Linked DNA regions of Homo sapiens. The protein of the gene in region 1 interacts with the protein of each later gene in a biochemical or structural test. Each region holds a gene or a part of one and is shown on either strand. Other genes may lie near its edges.

Region 1 (4,526 bases):
TGCCCCTACTGGGAATCAGCACTTAACCTCCAAGAGAAGCCAAGGTAACTTTTTTTGGGCAATGCTCTTTAGAGATCACAATCTGGGGAATAGGAGTGTGCAATGGGTTGGTCACTGTTCTAAGAGTTTTCAGTGGACACACCTTTTTTTTCACGAAAAAAATGTACCATGAGTTAATTCTGATATTTGTAAATTCAAATATAGGATTGCAGAATTTTAATATAATGTCTTTGGTTTATATTTGTATTTCTTTTCTCTTATGGTGAAAAACTTGGTTCACAAAGATATATTTATATACTTTATACTAATTATAAATTCAGAAATATTCAGAAATAGTAATACCTATGTTATTACTGACGAGTACCGAAAACAGCTTAAGGTTTCTTCAGTTTTTTCCCCTTGGATTAATGTCTCCCTAGGAAGGCTTGGTCGATTTATTGTTTTAAAGTCAAATCATTTATTTTCTATGACAAGACACTTTAACTGCAAAATGTGCTTCAGTGTAGTACCTTCATTTAAGGAGGAGTGAGGTGCCATTACACCTCCGTGTGTGTGTTTTGCCAACAGTATCGAAGACGCTTAACAGAACAGTAGTAAGTTTTGCTTTACAAATTCTTACATTGCAGAATCGTCTGCATCAGCTATTTTCATTCATGAGATATGTGTAAGACCTAAACCAAAGAACATCGTTTCCCCGGACTGAGGAGGTTTGCGAAACCTCCAGAGACTGAACTGCTGACCTTCCTTCTCTGGGCCGGGCGAGGCAACTGTACCCAATACACTTTTTGTTGCCATGCTGCGTGCCAGGTTACTCAGCCGGGAGAGGACACTTCCTACCATCAATGCGCTCAGCTTGAAGCCAGAGACGAAGGCACCGACAGTTTATTATTAAACAATGGCAGCAGCGCCACGCTGAAGACACGAACGCGCTGTTATGGAACCCCCAGAGGTCTCCCCCATCGTAGCCTGCTCCAGCCGACTCCGCCCACGTAAGGTGCAAGGTTTCCGCATGAGAGCCGGGAAGCCACAATTTCAAATTCTCTTTTATTGCTTTATGTCCCTGACTCATGCAGGCCAAAGGGTGAGGAGGAGTAATAGCCAACAAGAGCGTCCTGCAGAAAGAAACAGGCTGCGTGGGTCCGGAGGAGCTTGAAAGGAAGAACCCGACCAAAGGGCAGGAGACCCGGCTCTCCAGGTCGCGGAGGCGTGGGTGCCCAGCCAGGCGGAGTGCGGGGCGGGGCCTCTCGGGCCGCAAGGTGGGGCCTCCTGGGCCGGGAGGTGGGAGGTGAGCTCCGCCAGCCCAGCCCACTGCAGACAGGTTACCCAGGACCTCAAGGTGTGCTGCGTCACCCCGCCCGCGCTGCGCTGATTGGTTCCTCCAGGGAGCCCCCGCCCCCTCAGCTGTAACCGGGCCGGCTTCAGTGTCGCCGCCATCTTTGTTGATGTGTCAGCTCCGCAGGGGTTTGGGGAAACGGCCGCTGAGTGAGGCGTCGGCTGTGTTTCTCACCGCGGTCTTTTCCTCCCACTCTTGGCTGGTTGGACCCCGCTATGGAAAAGTTGGCCCCTGAGCCAGAGCTCCAGCAGCCTTGTTAGGGCGTGGCCTGAGGCTTGGATAAGTGGGGTAAGTGTCTGAGGGGTACTCGGGGCACACCGGTGAGTCGCGGTGGCGGTGCGGTGGGGCTGCCAGCCTTCCGCTCCTTCCTGCACGTTCCGTGGCGGGGGCGAGGGCGAGTGCGAGGTGGAGGTCGAGGTCGAGCGGGCTCCCCGCCTGGCTCCTTTGAGGGCGCGGAGGAAGGGGAGGGCTGGGGAACGGGTTTCAAGCCCTTTCCTCTCCCTGCCTTCCTCCTTCGGTTCCGGGACCTTGGAGGTGGCAAAGAGGGGTCAGCGGGGGTCGTGGGGGCTGTGCCTCGAGAGCGTCTGAATTCGAGCCCATTGCCTGGGCTGCGTGTGAACTGCAGCCAAGCCCTACCTGCTCGAGAATCTTTCCTAGACTCAATCGCCTATTTCGTTTTTCGTCTCAAGTTGACTGTATGTGGGTGTTTTATATTTACTGTTGTGAAGACTTGTTACCCTCTTCCAAACACTTCCATTACTGTGATTCTAAGTTCCTTAGAAGTGATTCTTTGGAGTGGTGGATACTGTTCTTTATGTTGTCTTTCAAGGACGTCAAGGCATTTCATAAACCTTGGTTGGTAAGGAAGGGGTTTCAGATTTATGTCTCCATCAGTAATGAAAAATGGCAAAAACAAAACAAAAACCCTTCTACGTGTCCCTAAGTAGCAATCTTGGGAAACAGTGCAGGTGTGAGTATTGCTTAGCTGTTAACAGTTTAACAACTTCACCTAATATTCCCATCTTGATTTTGTTTAGAGGAAAAAGTCCTGGATTTCGAGTCAGAACATCTGGATTAGAATCCTACTTCTTTCACTTGATAATCTTGTTACCTGTGGAAATCAGAAGAGAGAATATAGTAAAAATACGCAGTACAGTCCCAGGTACTTGGCCGTTTTCTCTGCATGTGTGTCATGTTCCTTTGATGCCCAGCTTTTTTTTCTTCCAAAACGATAGGCCGGGTGTTGTCTTCTAAGGTGTTCAGTAAATCAGGGTTTCAAGAGGTGTGCTGGTAGTCATTCAGAAGAAATTAATCTGCTATTATCTATTTAGGTATGCTAGTTGTGGGTGTGGCTTTCCCAACTATCAAGTACACCTTAATATTTACCGAGTGTTCATCTCGTGGGAAGGATTCAGGTTCAAGAGAGATTGATAGTGAAACTGAACTATCTCTGTGTGTAATGTACACTGTTCCCTGTGTAACTTCAATTCTTTATCCAACATTACACAAATAAAAAACAGTAATGATTGGCTAGGTTCATTTTTCTCTTTTATTTCTGGTCTTTTCATGTTATTTTTAATGCAGTGAAGATATTAGATCACGAATCTTGCAGTATTAAGAATTAAAACTTTTTACAGCATAATAGGCAAACGTATGATTACTGAAGATTCTCCCTGGAAATGCATGGATTGTGTTTGTTTTTTAAAGGCCCTGTTAAATTCAGAATAACTGCATATAAACTTAAGGTTTCTTTAAACAGTGGAGATTCCATAGTGTGTCATTGGCTTTTGAGTCCTATTTATTGCTAACGGAAAGGGTTGGCTGGTGTGTATCACAGTGACCACTCTAACCTTTTAGTTCTTTCACCCATAAAGTAGAGTTGTCCTTTAATGCTATGCAGTGACAGCATAGCTAATGATTGCTTAGTATGTTCAGTTTAGAAACATCTATTTGCAGCTTTATGCTGACATCACAGAGTGAAGATAAAAGCATTGCAGTATACTGACTCCAGGAAGAGACAGTAGGTTGAAGCACAAAGCAGCTTTATTTGGAGATTTAGAAAATAATCTTTCCCTTTGAAGAAGGACTGGTAATCTGCACTAGTTTCTCAAATTCATGCAACAGTTTCGTGTTAAAGTAAGAATCCTTACCCTGAAATTTTTTTTCTTTTAGTAAAACTTAGGTTTTTCTTTTATCTCTACCTTAAAATAACTAAAGCTGGTTTTTCAATTTCTCATAAACATATCACTGAGTTTACAGTATTGCAAATGTTATACTTAGTATTCATTTTAGGGGCAGCAGTGAGATCATAGATAATTTAATCTATTGTTTCAAACTGCTTTGAACTTTCTTAGCTACTGAGATTTAAAAAATGTATTTGGGCTAAAAAGTAAGAAAAAGGAAAAATACTGAGATGAAGGGACAGTAGACACAAAGTGGAAATCAGCACCAGCATAGTTTTGATTGGATTGTGAGTGTATTTCTTATTAACATTTGTCTATCATTAAGACACTTGAACTGATAATTGTGGGATTATGTAGACTATGTAATGTCTACCGCACTTACTACATAATCCCACGGTAGACTATCAGTTCATGTTTTTAATAAAGTAGAGCATACCAAATTAACCAACTCTGGCCAAAGGTGTCTTCAAAATTTAAACATTAACCCAAACTTTTTAATGTAATGCAGGCTTATAACTTGAAAAAAAATTTTTTTTAAAGATACTAGGCTTCATTTTGTTTAGTTTTTTGAGACAAGATCTCAATCTGTCACCCAGGCTGGAGTATAGTGGTATGATCATAATTCACTGTAGCCTTGAACTCCTGGTCTCAAGCAATCCTCCTGCCTTAGCCTCCTGAGTAGCTAGGACAACAGGCACAGGCCACCATACTAATCTTTTTAATTAAAAATTATATATTATTATTTTTTATAGACCAGGTCTTGCTATGTTTCCCAGGCTGTTCTCTTAATTCCTGGCCTCATTTGATCCTCCCATCTAGGCCTCCCAAAGTGCTGGGATTACAGGTGTGAGCCACCTGTAAAGGAAGGCCTGAGAGCCTTCCTTTTTGAAAAAGGAACTATAGGTCAGATTTTTTTTTACCTACTTTATTCCTTTTCAGATTTGGAGGAAAATTAGCTGATAATACTTTTCATGTTTTCTTAGACTCATTAAAGTGCAAGTGCAATCTTC
Region 2 (3,816 bases), on another chromosome or scaffold:
TCAATCCCTGTTTCCATGATGCAGTTTTACCTATTTGAACAAAAATTTTGATTAAAAGTGTTCTAATATATTATCTTATACAATATGGTTATCCTACAATATAAAATATATTGGCAATGTTAATGATTTGATGCATTTTATTAAGAGGACTGTGTGGAGTGATTATTTCAAACAAGTTAGGAGTCTTTTGGATTTTTAATCTTTTTGAGAGTAACACCTTTCTTCATTATTTGTTTCCCTTTCATTTCGTTCCCCAGGGCACCGAAGCCAAAGCACTGTCCATGCCGGAGAAGTGGAAGTTGAGCGGGGTGTATAAGCTGCAGTACATGCATCCTCTCTGCGAGGGCAGCTCCGCTACTCTCACCTGTGTGCCTTTGGGAAACCTGATTGTTGTAAATGGTAATTGGATAGCATAGTCATGGTTGCTGGTTTATGGATTCTTAGACGTTTCTTTCCAAATGTTTTATAGCCACTTCAGTGATTGGCTATCATGATACAGTTGTGAGTCCTTCTCAACTGTATTTAATTCCTAGGCCACTGATAACATGTGTCTGGAAGATCATGGAATATGAGGTTGTTGAGTTGTTTAGGCCAGCACCCTTCATTCTTAGGGCATCCATTTTTTTGATGTCTTAATCTTTGTAATATTTTGCTCTGGGGGATAATATTTAATATTATCCAATATTATCAGTATTTGATAATAGGAGTGAAATGAGCCTATTACACATGAACTCCTTGGAGAATACTTTTTCTTTATGCCTGTGGATGGCTTTATTTTTTTAACGAAGGTCTTGAACTGAGACATGGGGAGCTAGACCTGGGGTCACCATTTATCCAAGTTGGCATCCCTGTGACCAGCAATGCACAACAACAATGCTAAGTTTACTGGGGCCTTAGTAAGTATGTGTTTTATTTGCTGGGCCTCCCCCAACAAATGTCACTCTGTATGAATAACTTTTCCTGTTTATTTTTCATATTAAGAAATTTCACTGGAATAGCAATGCATTCCATCTCTGTGTTTTAGTTCAGGTACCACTTTGTTTCATATCAACTCCTAGTGTTCTGTCATAATCACACATACTGGAGATCCATTTGAATGACTAGGAGCTTTCATTTTTGTTCTGTTTTGTTTTTTGAGATTTATCCTTTTAGTTAGAAAGATAGCGTGGTAAGATTGGGAGGGCTGCGTTTGTTGTTTTTTTATTCAGTATAGCTCATCTTTTTCGTTTAGCAAAGGCAGTTGCTTTGGTAAGCCTTAGGTCAAAGGTTTAGGTCAGAGGTTTTCAGTATGTTCTGTAGCTACTCCTTTCTGCTGAGATGAAAGTTAGGTAGAAGCCCTATCACCACTTAAACCTTGAGCAGCAAAATGTTTATCTGTTTCATTTATTGAAGTTCTGTGTAAGATTCTGTTTGAAAAAATGTTGGTTTTTTTTTTTCCTGCTAAAATCTATTTTGAAAGCTACTGACTCATGCCATCTTGATCTTTGACATGTTGGATAGTTCTCATTCCCCTCTTACAAAGTTTCTTTTTTCTTTTTTTTGAGACAGGGTCTTGCTCTGTCGCCCAGGCTGGAGTGCAGTAGGCAGAGCATGGATCATTGCATCCTTGACCTCCTAGGCTCAAGCAGTCTTCCTCCTTGGCCTCCTGAGTAGCTAGGACCACAGGCGTGTACCACCACACCTGGCTATTTTTTATTTTATTTTTTGTAGAGATGAAGTGTCACTGTGTTGCCCAGGCTGGTCTCAAACTCCTGGGTTTGAAGCAATATTCCTGCCTTGACTTCCCAAAGTGCTGGGATTACAGGTGTGAACCATGCCTGGCCTCTTACGAAATTTCTATTTCTTTAGTCATAAGATTCTTTGAAATGTTATTTAAAAGTCTCAAAACTAGGTTTAATAGCTTTGGTGGTACTTCACATTTGTCAGGACATGACTGTCTGATGACACTAGGACCTAGCAATGTCTATTCAGCAGTTCATCATAATTAGCAAATGTAGCTTTTACTTTGGCATTCTTGTACACAGAGTGTCAACAGTTTCTGCCTTCATCTAATCATTCTGCTACATCACATCATAACTTGCAAGGTTGGAGTTACCAAATAGTAAATGTGTAGTTGCAAATTTTGCCTTGATTTTTTATAAAAGCACTTAATGACGTGTATAATAACCTCTATTCACTAGATTCAGGATACTTAATATAAAAAGAATAACTGCTGAATGTCTTGATGATTTCCTAATTTCTGATGTTTTGTTTCTTTACTGTTCTTGGCAAATCAGCTCTTGGCAGACTTGCATGGCAGCCAGCCGTTCCAGGATTGATTCTTTGAAAAGGAGCAGTGTGTCTTTAAATCTTTCCTTCACCCAAGGCATCCTGCTTGGTGCACATGTGCATAAGCACATCACTGGGCTCTTTCATGGAATGAGATGAAGTGCGCCTTTGTATACATGATTAAAATTGAACCCTCTGGTGATGTCAAGTATATTTATCCTTTGGGTCTGGAAGAGAGATGATGCTGTGAAAACTAGCAAGATTATTTTAATGAACAAAGGAAGACTCATTGCCAAGGGTTAAATAAAAAATAAATGGAGTTTTTAGTGACTTCATTAGAAATAATGATTTTATTGTGTTTAGTTGCCTCTGATTAACCTTGTTGCATATCTTTAAGTTACTAATAAGCTGCTGCCTAGTGGATTTTATATAAAGATGCTTACTGTAGTTTTTAAAGGTGGTGTTGTAGAGTGATTTTACTTCATGTGATGCCAGGTTTACACTTTTGAACTTGCTATCAGAGAAAGAAATAGGCGAAGAACAGTTTGTTTTGTATAATGTGTCCTTAGTATATTAGGAGCTAGGAAATGCAAGCCCATACTAAAAAAGAAAGGCAGTTGATGAAGTGACAGAATTCTTTATCATCTTTCTTTTGTTTATTTACAGCTACACTAAAAATCAACAATGAGATTAGAAGTGTGAAAAGATTGCAGCTGCTACCAGAATCTTTTATTTGCAAAGAGAAACTAGGTAATACAAACATTATTTAACTTTTGGGGTGAAACTCTGTGAAATTCATATAAGAAAAAAATCTGAAAGATAATGTTCAAAAGACTGAAAATTTCTATATGAGATTAAAGCATATTGAAGACAATGTGGTTTGTTTAAGAATGCAAAGGTTTAAAAAATGTGAAAGTTTTGCTTATAATTTGAGGAGTTTGTTTCTTTCCTGTTTTTCTTAGGGTCATAGTGTGCTGAATTATATTGTTATGAGATAACACTAGTATGTAATTTATTACACTCTGATGATAGTTCATAGTTTCTGTACTAATCTTTGGAGATCTCCCTATTGAGATCTCCATATTGGTATTTAACCAATATGGAGGGGATCTGTGTTTCATGAAAGTAATTCAATGTCAAGTTCATTATTGAAGATTATTGGAGGAAAAACTACAATCAAAATGTTTGTTTAAACCTATATAAATTTGATGGCTATTTTATACAGATTGATACTTTACCAAAGGTTTGCATTCTAGGTAAGGTTTTGCTTAAACTCTATAAAATTATTAATAGATACAAAGAAGACAGGTTTTCCCTTTTATCATTTTTCAGTTAAACCAAACTGTGAGAGGCAGTTATAGGTGGTTGGAGCAGAAGAGATAAGGTGGAGAGGGGAACTGACATTTTTTAAGTGCCTGTTTCATTCTGTACTTGTGCCTGTACATATGTTATTCCATTTAATCTTCTTAGTAAACTTAGGAGGGTTTTAAGAGCCTAGTGGGAATGTTGTGGTACAATGGGAAGATGGCATTTATAGCAGTCCTTTAG

What was found.
Region 2: of the proteins of CCDC186 (region 1) and FBXO7, one has a biochemical effect on the other in vitro, tested with the Homo sapiens proteins (one large-scale study listed by BioGRID).

Annotation. Positions count from the first base shown.
Region 1 is NC_000010.11:114,171,110-114,175,635, reverse strand, and holds the start of CCDC186 (coiled-coil domain-containing protein 186), read left to right. Parts: upstream 1-1,432; 5' UTR 1,433-1,621; intron 1,622-2,370; exon of another isoform or gene 2,371-2,495; intron 2,496-4,526.
Region 2 is NC_000022.11:32,484,811-32,488,626, forward strand, and holds part of FBXO7 (F-box only protein 7), read left to right. Parts: intron 1-257; coding exon 258-399; intron 400-2,934; coding exon 2,935-3,018; intron 3,019-3,816. UniProt on the Homo sapiens protein: Substrate recognition component of a SCF (SKP1-CUL1-F-box protein) E3 ubiquitin-protein ligase complex which mediates the ubiquitination and subsequent proteasomal degradation of target proteins and plays a role in several biological processes such as cell cycle, cell proliferation, or maintenance of chromosome stability.